3 separate regions of the Homo sapiens genome follow, and regions 1 and 2 are each linked to region 3. Evidence: fine-mapped QTL for protein levels in blood plasma. A gene starts in region 3. Each other region holds a variant in brackets. All regions are shown on one strand. Distances are from middle to middle.

Region 1 (8,185 bases), 43 kb before region 3:
TCAAGAAAGACGGGAACAACTTCAGACACTGGGCATGTAAGGGATAGCCAGGGTAACTGGAATTAAAGAGAGCTGATTTGAACAGGATGGATTTAGGGACTAGGAAGTGAGGCACAATATAGAAGGAAAATGAAATAACAGCAAATGCATGATGCATATACTTTAAATTTTGTTTGGGTTGAAGGGCTGTGTAACCCACGTTTGCATCTTTCTTTTCCCCTCCTGAGGAAGGTGTTCTCTAATCTGAGGCAGCAATAAATCTTCTCCCTGCCATCACCCTAACTCTGTGACCTTGAACTTATACTAAGGCTGTCTTTTGAGAATTACTACAGACAAAAATATAAGAAATGAGGATAGCAAGATATACATTCATATAATGAGACTGAACGTGAAGAAAACAATTGACTGAGATGTTATTGAATTCAGAGGGGGAAAGTTTCCTGCAAGAAGTTTGGTCAGCAATGAAAGCATTAGAAATGAAGAACCAGGGAAGCAGACTTTGTAGGACTCATGTATCCTCCCCATAGAAGGAGGTGTCCGGCCATGGAGTTGAGCGCACTCTGCTAATGGAAAAAGATAAACCCCTTCTGTGAACGTGGAGGCATGAAGATAGCCTAGCCAATAAAATCATCTCAGTTCTGAGCTCAAGAAGTAACCTTCTGACTTACAAGGCTTCCCATGCCACTTATTGATCTCAGGGAGTAGAGGCTCCAGCAATGTATGCCACAGGGAAATCCGGTCCTTGGGCATTATTTTATTCCAAATTCCAGATGAATAACTGGTATCTATTGTATAAAATTCTTTCTCTCTGGAGTTTGGTTAACATGATTCTGCATTCCTCAAGCTTGCTTAGTTTTAGGATTCTGACAACGTTGAGTGCCCAGGGGCTAAGGGGCAAGCCCTGGACTCAGTGAGCACTCCAAGTCATATATCATTTCGTTTACAATATGACTGTTTTCAGCTAGCCTTCCTTGTTGAGAACCAACCACAACACTTTCCTTAAAATATCACTAATCCCAATAACAATAATTCTGTTCCAAAAACCTTAATATGACAAAGTAAGAGATAAGAAAAGTTACCCTGGACCAGTTTCTAGTGAAGAATGAGCCTTCTCCTAAAGCAACTACCAGGTTTTCCAGGTACCATCCTTCTCCATCTTTTTGTTTTGTTTTGGTTTTTGTTTTTGTTTTTAAGACAGAGTCTTGCTCTGTCACCCAGGCTGGAGTGCAGTGGTGCGATCTGGGCTCACTGCAACCTCCACCTCCCAGTTCAAGCAATTCTCATGCCTCAGCCTCCCAAGTAGCTGGGATTGTAGATATGTGCCACCAAGCCTGGCTAATTTTTGTATTTTTAGTAGAAATGGGGTTTTGCCATGTTGTGTAGGCAGGTCTTGAACTCCTGGCCTCAAGCAATTCAGTCACCTCGGCCTCCCAAAGTGCTGGGATTACAAGTGTAAGCCACTGCACCCAGACTTCTCCATCTTTTTCATCTTATGCTAAGTAGACCACTCAACACCTCCTGGCCTGAGTCTCAGGGAAGGTCTCATGGTTAGCTACTCATTGCAATAGAAGTGAGTGCTGAGCAGGCTGTTGGATAGTTCAGTCAAAAGAAATCCTCCAGTCTCTTCCTAAAGAAGACAATGCCTACAGAGGCATAAACAGAAAACAGACTGAGTGAGTGACCGGTATGGTAAAAACATTACCTCAACTCAGTGCTAGAGAAGAAAGTGTAGTTTAATTCACACCCATTGCAGGGGCAGCAAACATCAGGACATCTGGTGTTCTCCTGACTTCAGCTAAATGACACCTCCATCTTGCATTTGTTTCTGAATGTGATGTCCATAATCAGATATATGAAGGGCAACTTTAAATAATGGATGCAGGCATGACATCACTTCTTGCGAAAAAATATCACATAAGGATGATTAATGGCTTAAGAGCGTAGGTGAGTGAATTGCAGTCAATCTGGGAAAATAAAAGGAAAGTCAAGAAATAAAATAAAATAAAATACATATTCAGCAATGTTGCCATTCTCCTTCTCAAGAGAGAATTGTGATAAACTTGTGTGTGGTTTGGGTGCTTAAAAAGTCTACTATTGTTGGAAAAGGTATCTTTTCTGATACATAAAAGATGGTGTGGAAGGAGCAGCTACCAAAAGAGAGTCTACAAGGCTCAGCAGTTATTATAACTCAGCATAGACCTTACTTGAGCATGGGGGATTTCAGGGAGGCTGAATGCTGAGGTAATATTGAGCTTCTCTGAACATTTTCTATTTTCCTGTGTATTTTCTTCTAATGACATTGACAAAGCTCAAAATGTTTCTGAATTCCATTTTATTTCTTGACTCATAATGATAATGCAATGTGTTATAGAATTTTGAGTACATATGCAAAATTCAAATCAAATTGTGGATTGGTGGGAGGAGCTCATTCTTAGAGAGTAAAGAAAACCTTGAGAACTGATGGATGCAAGAGAAAACTAAGGCCACATCAATGACCTTTCTTCCCAGGGCATATGGAAATGGGTGGTAAGGACACAATATTCCAAAACCAAATCTGAAGGAGAGCGACAATTCCATCAGATACTAATCAATGAGTCAATATACATTGATTATTATTATGGATTTATATCCATAAATCCCTATTATTTGGTTGTCCTGACACCACATGGTGTCATAAATTTTTCTTCATAAATTATCCAGCCTCAGGTATTCCTTTATAGACACCATATGATGTCAGGACAACCAAATAATAGGGACTTGTGAATATAAAAAACACAGAAAGCTTTATGCAAAATGAAAGAAGAGCTTCCATGTGTTTGATATTTTAGATACCTCATGTAAGTAGGATCACGCAGTATTTGTGACAGACTTATTTCACTGAGGATGTGTCTTCCAGGTCTATCCATGTTGTCACAAATGGAAGGATTTCCTTCTTTTTTAAGGCTGAAAAATATTTCATTAAGGAATACACCACATTTTATTTACCATTTATCTGTTGATGGACAGTTGAGTTGAAGGGTATTCCACTATTGTGAATAATGCTGTTATAAATTAAAGAGTGCAGATATTTCTTTAAGAAAAACAGAATGATAATTGCCAGGAGATGGGGGTTTGGGGAAAATGGGAAGTTGCACAATGGGTATAAAGTCCCAGATAAACAAATGAATAAGGTCTAGTGTCTGCCATACAACTTGGTGCCTATAGTTAACAATGCAGTGTTGCACACTCAAAATTTTAAGAGGGTTTCAACAGTTTGGATGTTTGTCCCTGCACACCTCATGCTAAAATTTGATCCTAATGTTAGAGGTGGGGCCTAATGGAAGTTGTTTGGGTCATGAGAACAGATCCCTCATGAACTGACAAATGCCCTTTTTTCATGGGAGGGGATAAGTGAGTTCTCACTCTTATTAGTTTCCTTGTGAATTGGTTGTTAAAGAGTCTGGCATCTTCTTCCCCTCTCTCTTTTGCTTCTTCTCTTGTCATGTGATCTCTGCACATGGCAGCTCCCCTTCCCTTTCCACCATGAGTGGAAACAACCTGAGGCCCTCACCAGATGCAGATGCTGGCACCGTGCTTCTTGTACAGCTTGCTGTACCATGAGCCAAATAAACCTCTTTTCTTCATAAATTACCCAGCCTCAGGTATTCCTTTATAGCAAGACAAACAGAATAAAACAAGGCTAGATCTCACATTAAGTGTACTTACCACACACAAAAAAAGCAAAGGAACATAAGGAAACTTCTGAAGGTCATGGACGTATTTATTACTTTGGTTGTGGTGATAGTATCACAGGTGTATGCACGTGTGCAAACTCATTAAATTGTATACATTAAATATGTGCAGATTTTTATACATCAATTATACCTTAATAAAGCTGTGAAAAAACGAAATGAGAGACACTAGAAACAATACAAAATACCTTCCATAAATCAGATGAGAAAGATTCCTAGTCATTAAAGACTAAGCTGGATTCACATAGCCTAAAAATCCTAACTCCACAGACCGAGAAAGATGGTCCTATTAGCAAGAAAATGTCCAGAGAGGATCTCTAAAGGAAGGCCACAACCCAAAAGCTCATTTGTGTAAGACCTGACATCAGTCAGCATAGCGAGTTCTTAAATTCATGGCATTAACATTCAGAGGTTTGATTTATCACCAGGAAATCCATAAAATATCATAATAGATCATAATACTCAGAGTGCTTAGGAGAATTAAAAGGAAAAATGTATAGAAAGTACCTGGAGCATATTTGAATTATGTA[GGTGA/G]GTGAGTCAAGCAGAAACACAATATTTCCTTTTTAGTGTGTTACCTTACTGTTTTGTTTTGTTTTTGTTTTTAAATTAAATAGTGAATACCCATGTACATTCCTTGTGAATAGGAAAATCAATTTTTCCCCCACTGCCAATGAGTCCATAGTGCCTAATGTACTTCCAGGATTCTTTTTCATTGCTCTAGTGCCTGGGTACAGGTTATCCTGTAGCAAAACCCTCACTGAGGATAACAGAGGGCAGCCAAGAAAAATGGGGTTGTCTCAAGGTAGACAGACTAGGCTCCAAAAAGAGTGAGTAAACATTTGAAGAGAAATGAAGAGGTTGATACAACTCAGCAGGACACAGAGAAGTCCATGCAGTGGCTGCATCCAGGTAACCCAGGAAAGGTAAGTGGGTCTGCACCAGCTTCCATAACAGCAGAAGCCTGGACAAGAATTCCAGGCACAGCATCAACCACAAAGAGCCTGAATGTGAGTCCTCAGATGATAGCAATGGCTACAAGCAGAGCGCAATTGGTGAACAGGCTCTCAGAGGCTCTTGGAAGTGGCTGACTGAGCAGGAGTGGACTCTAAGATCGCAAAAGTTACAGTGAGTGTCTGCATGGAGAAGAACCTGTCTTAAATAAGCAAGCATTTAGGGAGGAGCAACATTGGCTGAGGGCTTCTCAGATATGGCAATAGGAATTGCTGGATGAGATTAGTGGCAAGGTGATATTGTAGAATTAGGATCAGAAAATTTTTTGTGTAAAAATCAAGATAGTAAATATTTTAGGCTTTGTGGGCCACACAGTCTCCATTGCAGCTACTCAACTCTACAACTGTGGTCCAAAGGCAGCCACAGACAATACAGAAACAAATTGGAGTGGCTGTGTTCCAATCAAATTTTATTTAGAAATTCAAGTGGCCAGCTGGATTTGCCTATAATTAGCTGATGTCCATCTCAGAAGAGATCCTTTACATTTTGTAATGAAATTTTATTCTTTTGTCTTGATAATAAAAACAGTAGGTGATCATTGTTGAAAATATAGAAAAAAATAGAAAAGTATAAAAAATATTTTAAATCACCTACATATCACCCCTCAGAGACCCATTGAAACATTTTATGTATATTCCATTCAGCATTCTTGCCAATCTTTTATACAAAATTGAAATTCTAATGTACAAATGATCCTGGCTACTACTTTTTCAATGAAAATGATGTCATGCATATAATCTCTTTAAAATCCCTCCTAAATATTTGGATCACTACATAATATTCTAACATATGGATATATCAACTTTTATTTAATCCATATAAACTGACAAAGAGGTTGTTTACAATATTCTGCTACTATAAATAGTTTGGTGTTAAACATTTAATACACTAATCTTGATGTGTCTTTTCATATCCTCATAATCAATTACGTGATGTTGAGTCTGAGTACAGAACCCAGGCTGTGGCCTTGGAGTGTACAAGGAGAAACGAGAGGAAGTGCTGCTTCTAACATTAATCTATAGGCTGACTTTCCTTAGGATAGAGCAGAGAATAAAACAATTTTCTGCAGTTGAAAATAACTATTATTGCAATAAGTGATAATTCTATTATCATGAACATTTCAATCAAGAAATTGAGATGCAGTCATTGATCAGAAAGTATAACAAGGTTAAACCATTCAATTCTGATAGTTGAATTTTAAATTTGGATATCAAGAAAAATAATTGCAGATAGAATTCAGGAACCAAAAGATATTTTGATGGAAATATTTATAATAATAATTTATATTCATATAATGACTGGTTTTTAAATAACGTTCACATACATTATACCATTTGCCTCAGAAATTAACTATTTCTCCTGATAGGTTTTTTTAAGACAATAGACACATGACCCCAATTAAGCAAATTGGCTCCTGAACTAGGTACAAACGATTCAAAGCAGATCCATTCAATATACTGTACCATCACAAACTGAATTCTAACATTGTCTTTTTAAGAGAGAAGCTGGTGGCTAGGCATCATCCAGTACTTTTTGTTTTCTGCACCTGCTATGCTTACACAAGGCCTGATTGCTTATATTTTCTTTTTGATGACAGGCATTTGGTTCTTCTAAAGCAATTAACAACAGGCTTGAAAAAAAGGCCAAATTAGTGTCTGAATTAAATAAAATCTAGCATTTCTGTAACACTTTACAACTTACAAAGATCCAAACAAATGTTAGAACATGAGATGTTTGTCACTGGATTATATGAACTATTTGTCAATAGATTATAATTCCTATGGTAATGTTTTCATTCATAAAAGTAATTATTTCCTTTAGTTATTCTGTACTGTAGGAATTATAATCCATTATATGCTCACGTTTAAAAAATTATTTTGAAATGTGATTATACTAAATTGTGTAAAGAGATCTTCCTCATTCAAATTCACAGAAGAAAGAAAGATAATTTATATAACTAAACTCAATTGCAATCAATCCAACAATAACTCCCAGGGTTTTTTATTTGTTGATCATTATCACCAATTTTGATAGCCACTGGATAAACAAAAACAAGGGGTTAAAGAAAAATGGTGTCTTCCAAACTGATGCAGCTGGTTTTAATACACAAGTAGTTTAGAACAGAATATAACATTTGCAATAGATTATTAGATTGAGGCAAAAAAATTTTTAAAAACAGCAAAAACTACAATCCATATTGGGAAATGATTTTTTATTAAAGTTCAATGGGTTCCCTACACCTTAAAATAGTTTAAAATAAAATAAAACATTTTATACTACATAGTTTACAGCCTATAGCAATCAAAGCTCTCCATAACATTTTTGAAAATTTCTCAAAGGCCTGACATTGTTAAGGTTATCTCTGGCTCTGAACTCCTGTTTTCACTGACATAATTAATTAATAGTTGATGTCTGGAAATCCTACAAATGTCCTCTCCATCTGTCTTACATGCATAGAGTCTCAGCTTATACATATGAACAGAATGCCACACACAAAAAAACTAGAATAGCTACTAAACCAACTTGACTGAAGACTTCTTAGGAAAGGCAGAGAGGCTCACATCTTAGCAACATGAAGAATTTCTATTTAAACAGTATTGTCCTTAAAATATTTCTGCAAGAAACAGGTGGTGAAAGCTAGGGTGGGAGCAAGGTTGGGAGTCTAAAAGGTGACCTATGTTTACAGGTGGGACATGAACATCACGCCAGCAGGTTAAATGTTGATTCACCAAAAAACAAAGCAACCCTGAAACACAGAATAAGATAACAGGAAACATGTCTGTTTTAAGCTGAAGGCTGCATGGAGAACCTTTTTTAAATGTCCCATCAAACCTAACCAGAGTACATAGACAGAATTCGTGCTACCTGAGTGCCTGAAAACCCTTAGATGAAGAATTTAGCTGGACGTAGTCTTGGGTTGGTGGTGTTAGAGGTAATTGACAGAAGTAAATGTCCTTAAGGTGTATGTATTTCAACCCACAGATAAATTTCCGAACTGTTCTAAAAAAATTCAATCACTCAAAGAAAAAAATTACAAAACATGCCAGAAAACAATGTATTGTGCATAAAAGCAAAGACTTATAATGCAGTTATTAAAAGGAATGGAGATAGAAACTAAATACTTATAACTTGTGTCCCAAAACAAAAGTGGTGTTTTGAAATATAACTAAGGGGCAAGGGAACTGGTAGATTTGGAAAAAATTCATACATTTCATTCTCAAAGTTTAAATTTTTTTTAAATTATTGAAATTGGACATAAATATAGTAAATTAGTAAAAAAAAGAATATAGATCATCAAAAATTATTCAGAACACAGCACAAGAAGAAGAATATTGTATTAGTCTGTTTTCACATTGCTGATAAAGACATACCCGAGACTGGGCAATTTAAAAAAGAAAGAGGTTTAATTGGACTCACAGTTCCACATGGCTGGGAAGGCC
Region 2 (8,185 bases), 29 kb after region 3:
CACAGCTTTGCCACTTGCTGTCACCAGCCTCACTTCCTCTGGGAATTGAGGCAGGCCCAAACCTGGGATGGGAGTACATAGGAGCCCAGCATGGGTGCTGGTGAAGGCAGATGTAGGTGGTAGGAGGTGAGGCCTGATTGGCGATCCTAATTCTAAGCATCAACTCTGATTTTTTAGAAGTGAACAAATCTCCAAATACAATCATGCATCACTAAATGACAGGGAAGCATTCTGAGAAATGCATCCTTAGGTGATTTTATCATTGTGTGAACATCATAAAGTGAACTTACACAAATCTAGATGGTGTAGCCTATTTATTACACACCTAGGTTATATGGTATATCCTATTACACACCTAGGTTATATGGTATAGCCTATTGCTCCCAAGCTGCAAACCTGCACAGCACGTTACTGTCCTGAAAACTGTAAGCAGTTATAACACATGGTATTTTTGTATCTAAACATAGAAAAGATATGTAAAAATAAGACATTGTAATCCATGGGACCACGTCGTATATGCAGTTCCTTTTTGACCCAGTTATGGGGCACATGAGTGCGGCTGAATCAGGATTTCTAAATATTTAATGACAATATAACTGACAATCAAATTTTTTACAAAGCTACAAAACCTTTGAGAAAATAGCATGCTGGCCTGTGTGCATGCCTTTAAGCAGTATTCTGTGGCATGGATTCAATGAAATTTCAGCTCCAGTGGCAGTAAGAAGTGTTTTTTTTCCAGGCCAGTGATCTCTGCTCCATTTGCCAAGGTGTGCACCTTCATGCAGAAAGCTGCTGGACGAGGCTGATTCAGCGCCTGCTGCCTAAGGACCTGGAGCCTTTTTGACGTTGCAGTTGGACCTTTATCTCTGGTCCTGCTGTATTCCAGGGCCCTCCCCGGCGATATGACATAGGGTGTGCTCTGGCCTTCTTTTAAATTCCCAAATGGAAATGGTGCTTTTTATTCCCTCCCTGGTGTATGCCTAGGTGAGGAGTAGATGCCACGTTGTGCTGCTTCGTGAGGACAGACCTCACTATCTGACCCGCTTGCTCCTTGCTGACTATCCTGATCTCTATAGGGGGATGGTGCTCCCCTCCCCTGGGGCAGGGTGTTCTGGCTCTCCATCATGTAATCCACACCACCTGGGCTTGAGGGCTTATGCTCTGAGTCCTTCCAGCTGAAGGCTTCTGACATGCAATAAACCATGTCTCTTGCAACTCAAGGTCTTGGCTTTTAAAACTCAGAATTCTGTTCTCATTCTGCTTGCTATGTATATATCCCCCTTGAGACAAAAATGCTACAGACTGAATGAGGGAATTGGTAGGAGACAAGGAAATGAGACCCACAATGATGACAGCAACAATAAAGAGCACCACTGGTTATGGTAGCAAAAAAAAAAAAAAAAAAAAAAACCTAATTGTGCCAACAACAACAAAAGAAACTCATCTCAAAAACAGGCCTTTATATTACTTCAAGATTGATTTTAACTTCTAAGGCTACATTGCCAACCAGGTCAGTGTTTTGTCTCAGGCTACACTAAAGTTTTTCAAAGTTTCCTTTCTTTTTTACATTTTTTTGGCCAAGTACACATACACACACTCCTTAGCCCTCACTCCCAGGCAGGTTGACTGTGGTCTAGTGCCTCAGAAAGAGACATGGTTAAACTCCAGTTGAGCTTTTGCTTCTCGTAATAGCCAGTCCACTCAGTGGAGATTTCAGTTTTTAGTGTTTGCATTGTATAGACAAAGGGAGCATCTGTGAGAGTTACTCATGTTCTTTACCTTACAAGCGGTATTTGTATCATGGACGTGGGGCACACAACTCAACTGGGGTCTCCCTGCCCCTGGCAAAGCAGGAACTCAGCTTGATACGACCCATTTCCATGTCCCCCATTTCCATGGTCTTTCTAGTGAGTATCCCCACTTCCCAGTTTTGCTTCTGATGGCTGGGTCTGCATATGCTCTTCCTGCTTTGTCCTGGGTCAGCCAGATCAAAAATCACTCCATTGGTGGTAACCAGGAGATAAATCACCATGCCCTGTGTGAGTGACCATGGAGGGTCCCGTTAGCCACGTACAGCTTTCTTGGGAATGGCTGGTATGCTTGATTTGGATAGCTCAAGAAGGCAGAGTATGAGCCCATGGCTGGAAAGTAGAGAGAGGCAAATGGAAGCTTGGTTTCTAACAGAGCATCGTGATGCTGGATAGTGGGCAGAATGACCTGGAGGAAATTGGAATCACCATGGACTCGCAGTCAGGAGCCCTCAGTGGAAGAGGACCTTGTGCTCACAGGACAGACATGCCCATGGCATGTTGCCTAACACCTCTGAGTCTCAGTTTCCTGTTAGTACAAAGGGTCAGTAATTTGAGTACGTGTATTTTAGCGCTGCTGTAAAAGTTCAGTGAGGGAATATTCATAGAGCTCCCGGCCCTTGGCCCCGCTTGGATGCCACCCTGTTTCTCCTCCTTCACCCCTTTCCCCTTTCCTATTCCAGTGTCTTCGTAACTGGAAACACTGGGAGTGTTCCATGTGAGTCTGGGTGGTGACTTGACAGGGTTATAGACAAGGGATTCACCTACGTGGTGAGGGGATGGGCAAGAACTCAGCAGCAAGTTTTTATTTGTTTAATTTTTAAAGAGATGAAAAACATTTCTTCAAAAAAAAGTTTAATAAGAAACCCAATATGCAGACCACAAATTAAACAGTGGCTCTGGCTGGACAGGAGAGGGAACATCATAGCCCTGTGGCCCGTCCTGTGCGTTTGCACCTAAGACAACTCACCAAACACCCAGCATGCCTGTGTCCACACTCTGAAAACCACTGGGCTGGATCATTTTTTAAACATTCCTAAAACACTTAGGTGTCTTCGCAGAAAGTTTAGGGAAAGAAAAGTATGACCCTGTAGGGCCAGGCTCACTCCTGTAATCCCAGCACTTTGGGAGGCTGAGGCGGGCAGATCACTTGAGGTCAGGAGTTCAAGACCAGCCTGGCCAACATGGTTAAACCCCATCTCTATAAAAAACACATAAATTAGCCAGGCATAGTGGTGGGTGCCTGTAATCCCAGCTACTCAGGAGGCTGAGGCAGCAGAATCGCTTGAACTCGGGAAACAGAGGTTGCGGTGAGCCGAGATCGCACCACTGCACTCCAGTGTGAGCGACAGAGCGAGACTCCATTTCAAAAAAATATATATGACCCTGTAGGATAAACATGACAGCAGGCTAAAGTGCTGATTGTGGGCTTGTGTTTCAGGTGTCTCCATGCGAGAGGTGTCGCTGTGAAGCCAACGGTGAGGTGCTATGCACAGTGTCAGCGTGTCCCC[A/C]GACGGAGTGTGTGGACCCTGTGTACGAGCCTGATCAGTGCTGTCCCATCTGCAAAAATGGTATGTGAGATCCCCGTTGGTGACGGGGTGCACCTCCCACCCTGATGCACAACCCATGTGCTGCTTCATGGTAGACGGGACACATACGGATACGTGAGTTTCATCCTATGTATCAATACACATGCGTACACACGTGTGTAATCTTTCAGCCACAGTGGTTCTGTAGCAAGGCCTTCTCTCTCTTACTGGCATCAGCACCATGTTTTATGGATGTTAAGAAGTTCTTTGGGGAGAAATTCAATTTCCACCTTTGAGGAGAGTCACTTATTTTAATTTAACTTTGTTTGTTCTTGCAAAGCTGTTTCTATCTTTCCAAGACACATTAAACACACTGGTTGGGCTCATTTACTTTTCATTACTAAGTGAATGAAACTTGGAACATAATTGAATATTTTTCATAAGCAAATTAGGCAGGAAGAGAGTCCCTTCCTATTCCCAGTGAGAGCCCCTGGTAGATCAGAAGCCTTGCTTACTTTATGAAAATGAAGTGGCAGGATGTCCTTGATCCTAATTTGTCATGGGAGAGTGTTTCCTCATCCTGACAAACGATGATTACTCTGTACCTGAGGTACTGAGGGCATTACACTATAAGACGGTTTTTGACAAGAGTGCATACCCAGGCTGGCTGGGCCTGAGAATTATGGCCCGGAGGGCAGTTTGACAAGAGGCTGAGCAGAGCTTGGGAAACAGCGGACAGAGGGGACACAGCCGGAGTCTACAAGGATCTGAGTGGCCTCGCTGACAGGAGCGACTGGGCTTTCTGGATGTTGCCCAGGGTATGCTGTGGGGACCCCTGGTTGAGAGCATTCAGAGCTAACTTGTGATGCTGTCGGCCGTTCATGTGGGTTGCTGGACCGAGGCTTGATAGCTGTGTGGCATGGGTTTGGTATGTGGCAGGCATGTGTTGGTGGATGGTGACACAGGGGTGGTCATGGTGCTCAGACAATTCCCAGAGTCTGTCATGACAGTCGAAATTGTGCGGGCCATGAGGTTCCATGGGTACCTTCGACCACGTACCTGTACATATCCAGATTTTACTACAACACATTGTAAAACTCTTGAGGTAAATAATTGGAAGAGGGAATGATGTTGCTGTTGAAGGATAGACCTGAAAGAACAAGATGACTGTGTTAGGAATGTCATAATCATTGTAGCATAGTACATCCAGTCCTCCAAAGGCAAGTGGACAGTGTTAAAACAAAGATGTCACAGAGTGTACTTTATATAGGGTTGGCTGGTCTCTTGTGCATGTTAATTATGAAGAAATCCTGAGGTAGGATTCCATTAGACAAGAACGAGGGGGACTTTGAGCATGGAGTGTGTTTTTTTTTTAAAAAAAAAAATGATGTTGAGACACCAGCTGTGAGATGGAGGGAAATCAATACAGTTTACTCTACTAGTGTTAATTACCACTAATTAACACTAATAAAGGGGGAAGAAGACTCTGGGATTGGGGAAGGAGAGGCAGATGGAGAATCTGGCAGAGTCTCGGTGTGGCTTTCAGCACACCCGCTGAGGAGCCCGAGTGAGCGCCTCTGGTCTGCTGGGAGAGCTGAGGGCTGGCGCTCAGGCCATGTGCCCTGCATGTCGGGGGTACTGGACGACAACAACTCTCACTGCGTCAAGGGGTTTAGTGAATGGCTTAAATATGGGTTGCTTAAATATTTGGCGTCTTAACTACCCAAGATATTCCATGTTTTTCCTGTAAATTTTGATTATAGACTAAGTCTTGGCATTAGATAGCCGGGAATCCTAGCTTGAGTGTTAACAATAGGTGAGAAGACAGGATTTCAACCCCTGGATTTTTTTTTCTTGCTTTTAGAGAAATTTCAAACCTACAGAAAAGTTGAAATAACTGTCCAGTGAACAATTGTATACCTTTAGCTACACCTGTTGCTAACACGTTGCCGTATTTGCTTTGTCTCTTTCTTTGGCCCTCTGTCTTTGGTTCTCTCCTGCCCCATCTCTCTATATACATAACCCAACACCATCAATATATTTACTTATTTTTTCTTTCCCATAAGACACATGGCACAAATTCTATTGAGACTACCACCAACCTGAAACCTACTGAATAGTGTTCAAGATTTTTTTAGAGTTTTTCTTTTGCCCTTAGGATTTATCCTTCTTAGAGCATACAGTCAGAGAACTACATTGAGCAGTTACTTGAATTAATACTTAAAAGTGTGCAGAAATGTTAAATTTACAAAGAAGTAATTTATTTCTGTGTTCAATTTTTTCATTTAAGATATAGTTATATTTTTGAGTAAAAAAATGTACAAAAACTAAACACTTTATAAATATTATATACCCAGAGATTCACAGTTTGTTTTAATATTGCATTGATGGTTTTGGGAGATGGTTGTTGTCCTGATGGTAAACTTCTAAATGTTGACCCTTTAACTCTATATTTTGAGAGGCAGTATGGGATGGAATAAGGCAAGATTTTGTGGTGGCCCATTAGAGATTTTTAGAAGGGAGATGAATATGTTTTTTAAAGCTAGATTTATATTACAGAAAGACTTCTATTATAAGGCTTGATGCAGTTATATCAAAACATCAACAACTTATTTTGGGGAGTATAACTGGAAATAAATTTAAATGTATCTAATCATGCACATACAATTACATTTCTTTTATTCACCAGATAGAGCTTGGCTTTCAGCTGTCTCTAGTTATAGGGTATTCTGACCTTGACAGGGAAAATGGGGTTTGAAATTCTTAGTAAAAGAGAGCTGCTTGAAAAATGAAAACAGTTTCTATGAAAAACAAATGCTCTATAATAACTGACTGAGATTAATGAATAATTTACAGTAGTCCAACCCTGCCTCCCCACATAAACAATGTTCTTGTAAAAAAATTATATGTTTGATATATCACAGATTAGAGGACATCAGAAATGAATGCTTTATATGAAATTAAAAGCTTGGATAGACTTATCTTGGATGAAATATGAAGGTTTTAACTCTTGATCTCCGTAGACCAGCCTTTACTCCTCACTCTGGCATGTCTTGACCTGTAGCATTAAATAGCTCTTTCTCCGACAGAAGGAAAATTACAGTTCAGTTGCTAGCTGCCAAAGTCACTTGCATCAAAGGAGCAGAAGTTGGAAACCAAGAATGCCTTGAATATAAATAAATGATCACAAATCAAATGTACTTTAATATATTCACTTTGTTGACTTGTGCAGATCAATCTCCCAGTGTTTTTCTTTTGATAAAATGGATGTTGCATGGCATTATTTGTTTTTAAATTCCACCCCCCCACAATGATACAAACAGTGAGTGTTATTTGACTTTCAACTATTCAGCTTTTCTCTGGTGATAGGTGCACAGCACCCATTCCGATCAAACCCCTTAGTTTTAGACATGCTTGTCTGCATTAAGTAGGCACTAGGCTCCCATTAGCGATCAGAAGACCTCCATTCTGCAAGTATACATGTCATCTTACTTTATGGATCCAAAGAAGAAAAATGATAAAAGTAGGACATTGGTGTTGAAATATGAGGACTTTGTCAGAATTAGCTGTGCTTCTCAAAGGTGGAATATGGTATCCAAGGGAGGATACGACATATGCCAAAAGCACAAAGCCACTGGATATAAAGGTTGTATATCTCCCTGAAGTATTACTGCCACCTGATGATTATTATTTGCAGCTTTATTTTTACAGGAAAACATTTTTTGGAGGAAAGTGAAAAACATTTATGACACTTTAAAGATAAACACTGAGACGTCAAATTATTAAACATACGTTCATGGGAAAATATGTAAGAAGCACTGACTGAGAATTAGGCAGAGTTTTGTTTGTTTTCCTATGTATTTCATAGAGTAGGATAAGATGGTAGTAAATGTCATGCAGTGGGTTAGACAAAACGGAATGGTGTGTGTGTGTGTGTTTGTGTGTGTGTGTGCGTGTGTGTGTGGTCATATCAAGATCCTCTCACAAAGAAAAGCCTGCTCCTATGTGGTCTCACCATTGAATCCTTCCAAAATTCTTACCAAGGAAATAATACAAATTTTATGAAAATTCTCTGTGATTATTTACAGATTACGTGATTGTGCCCATAAAAAATAAAGGAATTTACAAATATCAAAATGAACAGTTGATTTTAACAAGGATGTTTAGCAAGATCAGTGTTTGAAAATCAGCTGTATTTCTGTATACCAGAAAGAAATAGAAGTGAATTAAAAACTAGAGTTTCAAATAACATCATACAAATCAAATACTTTTGGAAGTAAATCTAACAAAATTGTGAAAAGTCTCCATACTTAAAAAACATGAATCTTTATTGAGAGAAATTAAAGAAGACCTAAGTAAAAGGAGGGATATATCATGTTCATGATTGAAAGACTCAATAACACAAAGATGTGAGTCTGCTTCAAAGTAATCTATTGATTCAGTACAAAATTCTAGCCAAAAATCCAATGGTTTTCTGTAGCAATTATCAAACTGATTCTAAAATCCAAATGGTATACAAAAGCTAAAGACTGGCTTGAGAAATATCCAAGAGGAACAACAAAGCTGGAAAATGTACAAATATTTAGACTCACTCCAAGAGATAGTAATTAGCCCGTTGTGGTTTGGTCCCAAAGAAAGACTGACAAATGGAACAGGACAAAGTCAGAAAAGGCCTGTGCATGTAAGACCACCAGCTGTGTGACTAACCTGACATCACAGGACAGTGGGAAAGGAGTAATCTTTCCAGTGAATTGTGCTAGACCAACTGAATAGCAGTATGGAGATAAAAGAGATCATGATTGCTACCTCACATTTGACAAAAAATCATTTCCAAACAGATTGCTGATT
Region 3 (8,185 bases):
CTCTCTCTTCCCTTTTAAAGGTGAGAAAACAAAGAGCCTGTAACACTGAGTGACTTGTTCAAAGTTGCAAAACTGGCCCCTGGTGGAACTTGGATTACACTCATGTCACTTCAGTCCCTGACCAGAGATCTTTCTGCTCCTGCCTTGCACTCTAGCCTGGAAAAAAGGAAAGGATGGAAAAGTAAAGAGGAAGGGAAAAGCAAAAGGGAAGGGGAAGAACAAGGGGAAGTGGAGAGAAAGAGAAGGGAAAGGGAAGGGAAGGAGAGAGGAAGGGAGGGGAGGGGAGGGGAAGGGAGGGGAGGGGAGGGGAAGGGAGGGGAGGGGGAGGGGAGGGAAGTGAAGGGAAGGGAAGGGAAAAAGGGGGGATGGGAAGAGAAGGGAAAGGAAAGCAAGGAAAAGGAAAATAAGTGGAAAGGAAGAAAGGAAAGAGGGAGGGAGGGAATAAAGGAAAGAAGGAAAGAAATGAGGGAGAGAAAGAGGAAAAGGAGAGAGACGGAGGAGGGAGGGAGAAAGGGGAGAAGGAGGGCAAAGGGAAGGAAGGAAGGAAAGAAAGGAACAAAGAAGGAAGGAAAGAAGAAAAGTTAATCGCAACAATTCATTGCACTGGCAATAAATAAATTGTATATTCCTTCAACGCCTGCAAAGTCCCCTATATTTTCTCGAATTACTCAGCTCATCAAGCTGCATGGGTATTGCTCTTCTTCACAAAGGACAGCAATCCCTTGGAAACTGCTTTCCTCCCTCATTCTATCAGGCCTGTAACACTATCTCTGAGAATATCTAACAGAACAAAGCCATTTGGACACTTGGTCACTTAATTCATCCTCAGTTTTGTCAGGCCTCTTCTTGAAAACTTGGCTATCTCATATTCATGGCTCTCTACTGGAAGCAGCTGGCTGGGACAAGAAGTTTCTGATTCAGAGAGACCGGTGATTGAGGTGGGATTAATAAAGGGACATCATTATTTCCTCAGCTGAGCCCCCAATCAATTTTTCAGTTAGAATCCTGGACACATAATGTTACTGTTTCGTTCTTATTAGTCACATGTGTTTGGGGCTACCCCATCGTAACCACATGAGAGTACTGTTGGCAAAACAAAACAAACAGGATGTTTAATGACAAGAACAGAATTAGCTAATAAGTCAAATAACAAAATTTGTAGCCTAACCAATGCTATAAAAGCACTTGATTTTATAGAACCGAGGGCCCATTTTGCACATTACATATGATCACACCTCGAGCCGTGTTTTTATTTTGGTGGTGTTGTGAAAGGTGTGATATTTGGATTAGAGCATCATAAAGACACAGAAGCCATAACTGATTAGAGCATGTGATGAGAGGCAGGTGGGTGGGTAGGCAGCTGCAGCCACAGCAAATGTGGCCTGTCTCTTTTCTGAGGGTAACAAGAAACGAAAGGGCCGAGTGTGGTGGCTCACACCTGTAATCCCAGCACTTTGAGAGGCCGGGTGGATCATTTGAGGCCAGGAGTTCAAGACAAGCCTGGGCAACAAAGCAAGATCCCATCTCTACCAAAAAAAAAAAACAAAAAAAAAACAAAAGAAAAAACCTAAACGAAACAAAACAAAACAAACAAACAAAAAATTAGCCCTGTGTGGTGACCTGTACACCCAGCTCCTCCGGAGTCTGAGGCAGGAGTTTGAGGCTGCAGTGGGCCGTGATCATGCCACTGCACTGAAGCCTGGGTGACAAAGTGAGATCGTGTCTCTAAAACATTAAAAAAAAAAAAAAAAGGAAAAATGAGAGTGAGAACTGAAACAGCAGAAGGGCTCAAATCATCCTGTACATAGAAATCCTCCATCCAGGCCAGGCGCGGTGGCTCACCAGCATTTTGGGAGACCGAGGCAGGAGGATCACGAGGTCCGGAGATCGAGACCATCATGTCCAACATGGTGAAACCCCGTCTCACTAAAAATACAAAAACAAAATTAGCTGGGGGTGATGGCGGACGACTGTAGTCCCAGCTACTCAGGAGGCTGAGGCGGCAGAAAGGCATGAACCCGGGAATCGAGCTTGCAGTAAGTGGAGATCGCGCCACTGCGCTCCAGGCTAGGCCACAGAGCGAGACTCCGTCTGAAAAAAAAAAAAAAGAGAGAGAGAGAGAGAAAGAAATCCTCCATCCAGCCCTGTTGGTTGTGTATGTGTTGGAGGGGGTGGAGGGGCAGCCTTCTCAGGCTTTCAAGGAGGGCTCCCTAGCACCTCAGCTAAGATTTGTTTGTCTATACTATTAAAAGATAGACATAACTGTGTCCCAAACCAGCCTCCCCAGTTCCCACCAGCCAGAGCGCCTGACCTTGCAGGGAAGCTTATCTGTTTACCGTCCGAGCACTTTCAGGGATTCTAAAATGCCGTGAGTGGGAACCACTGCCATGGGCCATTTCCATGAAAATTCAATTTCGGGGATTAATTTGAACAGGTACTATTGACGTTTTCTCGTTTACACAAGATCAAAGAGTAAAAACAACCGGGCCTCTGCTTAACAGTTGAGGATTCTAGCAAAGTTAGGAAACAGGTTTCTATTTGTAGTAGAAGAGAGAGCAGGCAGAAAGAGGAAGATGGGAGCGGGGAGAGATTGGCAGAGATTCAGAAAGTTCGCGCTTGAGATTTTTACGTTTCTTACTCGTAAACGTCTATTTCTCTGGGTTTCTGAATGCAAAGACGAGAAAGTCTCAACAGTCTGCTAAACTAACACGGCCTTCGAATCCCAATCTGAACACAGTAGCTGAAACAAGCTGTCCACAAAGAGGAAAGCCAGAGGGGGCCAATTAGGAAGGAAGAAATTAAAGAAAAGAGAAAAGCCAAGATGAAAGGTCCAGCGCAAAGTGAATGACTCGACTGGAGAATGGCAGCCCTGGCAGGGTCTGCGGCCGGCTGCGGAGGTGGGGACGCGGCCGCGCGGACGAGTGACAGGTTGGTCCGGCGCAGCAAAGGGAGCGGGTGCGGCGGTAGGGCCTCTCCGGGGGCAGCGCGAGGGCCTCCCCCGGGGCAGCGCGGGCCAAGGCGGGGCCTCCAGAGCGGGGGCAGCAGAGGAGGGAGCGGAACGGGAGCCGGGCGGAGGCGGCTGCGGCAGGGGGAGGCGGGAGGCGGGCGCGCTAGCTCCCATGCTGGCCTCGGTGCCACTCGCGCGCCGGCCGCGCTCCGGGCTTCTCTTTTCCCTCCGACGCGCCACGGCTGCCCAGACATTCCGGCTGCCGGGTCTGGAGAGCTCCCCGAACCCCTCCGCGGAGAGGAGCGAGGCGGCGCCAGGGTGGCCCCCGGGGCGCGCTTGGTCTCGGAGAAGCGGGGACGAGGCCGGAGGATGAGCGACTGAGGGCGACGCGGGCACTGACGCGAGTTGGGGCCGCGACTACCGGCAGCTGACAGCGCGATGAGCGACTCCCCAGAGACGCCCTAGCCCGGTGTGCGCGCCAGGCGGAGCGCGCAGGTGGGGCTGGGCTGTTAGTGGTCCGCCCCACGCGGGTCGCCGGCCGGCCCAGGATGGGCGCTGGCAACCCGGGCCCGCGCCCGCCGCTGCTACCCCTGCGCCCGCTGCGAGCCCGGCGTCCGGCCCGCGCCCTGCGCTCATGTATGTAGGTTTGGCGCCGGTCTTCAGGGCTGAGGGTGCATGCTGGGTGTCCCCGCGCGGCCGGACGCGCTCCAGCTGGGTTCAGCCGCTCAGCTGCTCCGGAGGAACCCCCTCCCCCGCCCAAGTTTGTGAATATGGGCGCTTCGCCCAGTGTTGAGGTCGGCAGGGACCGGGCAGGGGGTCAGCAGGGCCGGGCACGTCCGGAGCCCTCAGGGAGGAGGGCTGAGGGGGAGGGGACAGACGCACCGGAGTGCGCAGAGTGGGGGCGTTCGGGGAGTGAGGCGGAGAGAGGCTGGATTGCCGGTGTCCTGCGGCGTCTCGGGCTCTCCCAGCCCCTTTGGGCGGCAGAAACTTTGGAATCCAGAAAGGCTGGCCGGGATCCAGCGAGTAGGAGGGTCTCGCGCCCACTCTGCGCCCTGGGGCCCCAGCCTCCCGCACTGCACACCTTGGTGCTGCCCGGGCGCTTCTGCTCCGCAGCCAGGACACTACAAGACTGAGCGCTGCGGCCGGCGACCTGGCTCCCAAGGCTCGGAGGGGCGGGCCGGCAGAGGAGCTGAAGCCCCGGGAATCCCCGACCCGGCCCTCTGGCAAGGGGCCGAGGGCATCCTTTCATGCAGCGGGGCTTAGAGAGCGGGGAGGGGGCGTCTGCTCCCGAGACGGGAGTCTTTTAAGAAGTTGTTAGAAATGAATCGTGGAGTCCTAGGAGAAGCTTTGTTTAACCTCCCCGCATTTTCCCAGCACAACCCCCTAAAGCAAATGAGGAAGAGTTTCCCTCTTATCTTCCTGTACATTCGTCCGTCTCTAACTCCACTGCTGAATTCTCCATTTAATAACCTTCGGGAAATGTGGCCAGGACCTAGGGAGGGACACCCTGGGTGCCTGAATTACGTGGTTCAAGGCAGAGCTTTGCAGGGGGGCGCGGGCCTGGCTCGCTGCGTTCCCTGGGCTCCGCAAGCCGCCCTTGGCCATCTCCAACACTAATCACGACTACATCAGAAACACGCCGGCCGGTGTCGTTCTTGGATTTCGCTTCCAATGTATCGCTCCACAGTTTGTGATGTCTAAGAACCCCGGCCGTGCACCGACGCTGGGCATGCTGCCCCCGCCCCCGTCGCCCAGCTCGTTAATCTAGAGCTATGCCGGAGCCCGGGTGGGGGCCGCGGCGGGCCGGGGCGCGCGCGGGCCGCGGGGCTCAGTTGTGCTGCTGTTCTCTCCGCAGGGACGGCGGCTCCCGGCTGGCGGCGGCGCGCCCCCGGGCTGTGAATGCGACTCGCCCCTCGGCCGCGCTCCCCGCCCGCCCGCCCGCCGGGACGTGGTAGGGGATGCCCAGCTCCACTGCGATGGCAGTTGGCGCGCTCTCCAGTTCCCTCCTGGTCACCTGCTGCCTGATGGTGGCTCTGTGCAGTCCGAGCATCCCGCTGGAGAAGCTGGCCCAGGCACCAGAGCAGCCGGGCCAGGAGAAGCGTGAGCACGCCTCTCGGGACGGCCCGGGGCGGGTGAACGAGCTCGGGCGCCCGGCGAGGGACGAGGGCGGCAGCGGCCGGGACTGGAAGAGCAAGAGCGGCCGTGGGCTCGCCGGCCGTGAGCCGTGGAGCAAGCTGAAGCAGGCCTGGGTCTCCCAGGGCGGGGGCGCCAAGGCCGGGGATCTGCAGGTCCGGCCCCGCGGGGACACCCCGCAGGCGGAAGCCCTGGCCGCAGCCGCCCAGGACGCGATTGGCCCGGAACTCGCGCCCACGCCCGAGCCACCCGAGGAGTACGTGTACCCGGACTACCGTGGCAAGGGCTGCGTGGACGAGAGCGGCTTCGTGTACGCGATCGGGGAGAAGTTCGCGCCGGGCCCCTCGGCCTGCCCGTGCCTGTGCACCGAGGAGGGGCCGCTGTGCGCGCAGCCCGAGTGCCCGAGGCTGCACCCGCGCTGCATCCACGTCGACACGAGCCAGTGCTGCCCGCAGTGCAAGGAGAGGAAGAACTACTGCGAGTTCCGGGGCAAGACCTATCAGACTTTGGAGGAGTTCGTGGTAAGATGCGAACGCCCGCCGGGCGACTTTGCACCTTCCAGGAAGGGGTGGAACAGCTTTGGTTCTGTGGTCCCCCACTTTGAAGAAGAGGTGCTCTCTGGTTCTGAGAGGTGGAGAGCACTGTGCTCACGTCCCTTTGACATGACCTCTCTTTTTCAGGGCAGAGGTAATCCTTCCCAGAGCACTGTGGCCAATCCATAGGGATTCCTTCGGTGTTCACTTTAAAAGGGCTTCATGAGGATGAAGCCTATGGCACTGAAGGGAAGGATCCCAACAGGTATCGGAGGGACTTTCAACATTAATGTACTGCTCCTAATTTGGGAATGTTGTCGGTGAAATTCTTAACCTGCTTTCAAACACAGGGTAATTTACGGTACCATTTGGGATATATTCTTCAACTAATAGCTAATTAAGGGAGACTATTCATATAAAAAGCCATTTCCCTAGATTATGTGTTTAGGGTATCATGCAAATGTTCTAAAAATTAAAAGAAAAAGAAAATATTTGCTCACTGGGTGCCAAATCATAGTGGATGGTGAAACCAACAAGTGCAGTTAATGGTTAAAAATTGTTTTGTTTCAGATGAGTAGTAGTAATGTTAATAATACCGGCCATCTCTCTAATGCCTACTGTGCGTCAGGATCCCGCTGGTTTTCATGTACGTTAGTTAAATCTCATCCCATGCTAGGAGGTGGATTATTATCCATTGTCTCCATGTTATGGAGAAGAGGAAACAGACACAGAATATTTAAATAATGTGTTGAAGGCAGAACAGCTATTAAGAAACAGATTCATATGTCAAACTAAGCAGTTCTACTCCATAGCTTAGGTTTTTAACCCTTATACTCTACTTGAACCAAAAGCCCAGCTCCACTGGGGCTTTAGTTTGGGTGAAGGTGCTGCACAGCATGCATGCACAGGCTCTAGGTAAAATCTCTGCCAGTGGGCTAGGGGCCTGAGAGAGACCTGCACAGGTGTTCAGTTATTCCAAACACCTCAAGGTAGGTTCAACCTATGGCCTGCCTGGACTTAGCCCATTGACTTACCAGGCCATAGCTGTCCTTTTCCCACCTGCAGAGGGCGTTATGGAACGTGCAGCTACTAAAGCAAAGGTTTAGGGAGGAATTCTGCTGGAATACCCCTCCTGGAATTAGCCTGTGAGATCTGCTAATTCCCAGGATGTGAAGCCCATGTAATTACTGACTTGTGGCAATGAATTATCAAGTGTTATATAAGTACAAAGCCAGGAAGGACAGATCTATATATAGTGTACAAAGTATGGAAAGAGTGCTGGAATTTAGAGTCAGGAAACATGGTTATTCATTCTGGCTTTACCACTAACCAGCTGCAGGACTGGAACAAAAGACATATGCCCTCTGGGTTTCTTTTCTCTTATCTGTAAGATAAGGGGCCAGCTTTCCCTAGGCTCATGTAGCAAAATATAACTCCAGGCATACATTGCTTAAGTACTCACATTTGACTGCAGCCCTTTGGAGAAAGACAACTGGGATGAGCAACTCATATGAACCACGCCCAGGCCATGCAAAATTAACTAAATCAGAAACCCTGCCCTCAAAATGCTTCCTGCCTACGGGAGGGTCTGGTAGATATCTCTCCAGGTGTTTTGGGTGCAGAACAAAAGTTCACAGGCAAATGTGTCCAGGTAAAGGAACCTGTGGGTGCTAGAAGAGCTCAGAGGAGGGGCCTTCCATTTTGGCCTGGAGCAGGGTCATAGAACACTAGAACAATTCTCTTAAGTTTTGAATTGGTAACATCATCGGCTCTTCTAAAGTCAAAGATAAGCAGTTGGTTTTTAATTAATTCCTTTTGTTGTTTGCACTATTTATAGTTTCATAGTAATTTTCTGGAATTGTCCTTAGAAGTAAACTGAGGAATTAGTAGCACTTTGATCTAGTAAGCCCAAATACTTCAGTGTCCACTTACCTACCTGAGATCACAGGTAAAGGAAATAATTCAAACTTCTGTCTTAACAATTCATGCTAAATGCTAGCAGCCATGAAGCTGCTTTTGTCTATGGAGGAGAGGGATCTCTCATTTAATTTCCTCTTTGCTACCTGTTTGGTAGTCCATAGGTAGAATGTGTTTTCAAACTCTGAGGATGGGAGATGATATTGACAAAAGGGAAATTGGAAAGATTACAATCTTAGGAAGAATTAAAATACCAGTAAAGCTATTTTTGGAATATTAAGTGCATCTTCCATCTTCAAATGACGTTTCATTCTAAACTTTCATCATTTATTACCAGATGCTGGGATGCACACATGCTTGAACGTTGCAAAGTTGTTACATATTTTTAATTATATGCTTGTTCTTACAATATGTCAACTACATAAAGATTTTATAGTGTTAGAGCATGTTTGCTCATTTTTGTTAGTATCGGGAACATTTCTAGGCATTCTGCTAATTTATCGTGGCCTTGTGCAAGCCATTTATTGTCTCCATTTTTGTTTCCTTCAATGTACAAAAGAGAAAGCAATGCTTTTTTTGAAGAATGTTGAAAATATGAATGTAGAATGGTATAGGGTTAGTTGTGAGTCCACGGGCTTTGTGGGTTGCAGTAATG

Evidence for each region. PIP is the chance, under the fine-mapping model, that this variant and not a neighbour inherited with it causes the effect. Sun 2018 read protein levels with aptamers (SomaScan).
Region 1: its variant is fine-mapped to the plasma level of the VWC2 protein (Sun 2018, PIP 0.95).
Region 2: its variant is fine-mapped to the plasma level of the VWC2 protein (Sun 2018, PIP 0.95). The variant lies in the coding sequence of VWC2. If it changes the protein, the assay may bind it differently, which can mimic a change of level.

The regions. Positions count from the first base shown.
Region 1 is chr7:49,727,230-49,735,414 of GRCh38, forward strand. No RefSeq gene overlaps it. Among named protein-coding and RNA genes, the nearest start is that of VWC2, 42 kb to the right of the region's middle. The variant GGTGA/G (reference allele first, on the strand shown) is at 4,262.
Region 2 is chr7:49,799,462-49,807,646 of GRCh38, forward strand. It overlaps VWC2 (von Willebrand factor C domain containing 2), which reads left to right. Exons shown (of 4, transcript NM_198570.5): 3 at 3,250-3,379. Among named protein-coding and RNA genes, the nearest start is that of VWC2, 30 kb to the left of the region's middle. The variant A/C (reference allele first, on the strand shown) is at 3,320.
Region 3 is chr7:49,770,531-49,778,715 of GRCh38, forward strand. VWC2 (von Willebrand factor C domain containing 2) reads left to right here and starts at 3,108. Exons shown (of 4, transcript NM_198570.5): 1 at 3,108-3,583; 2 at 4,803-5,601. The coding sequence starts at 4,906.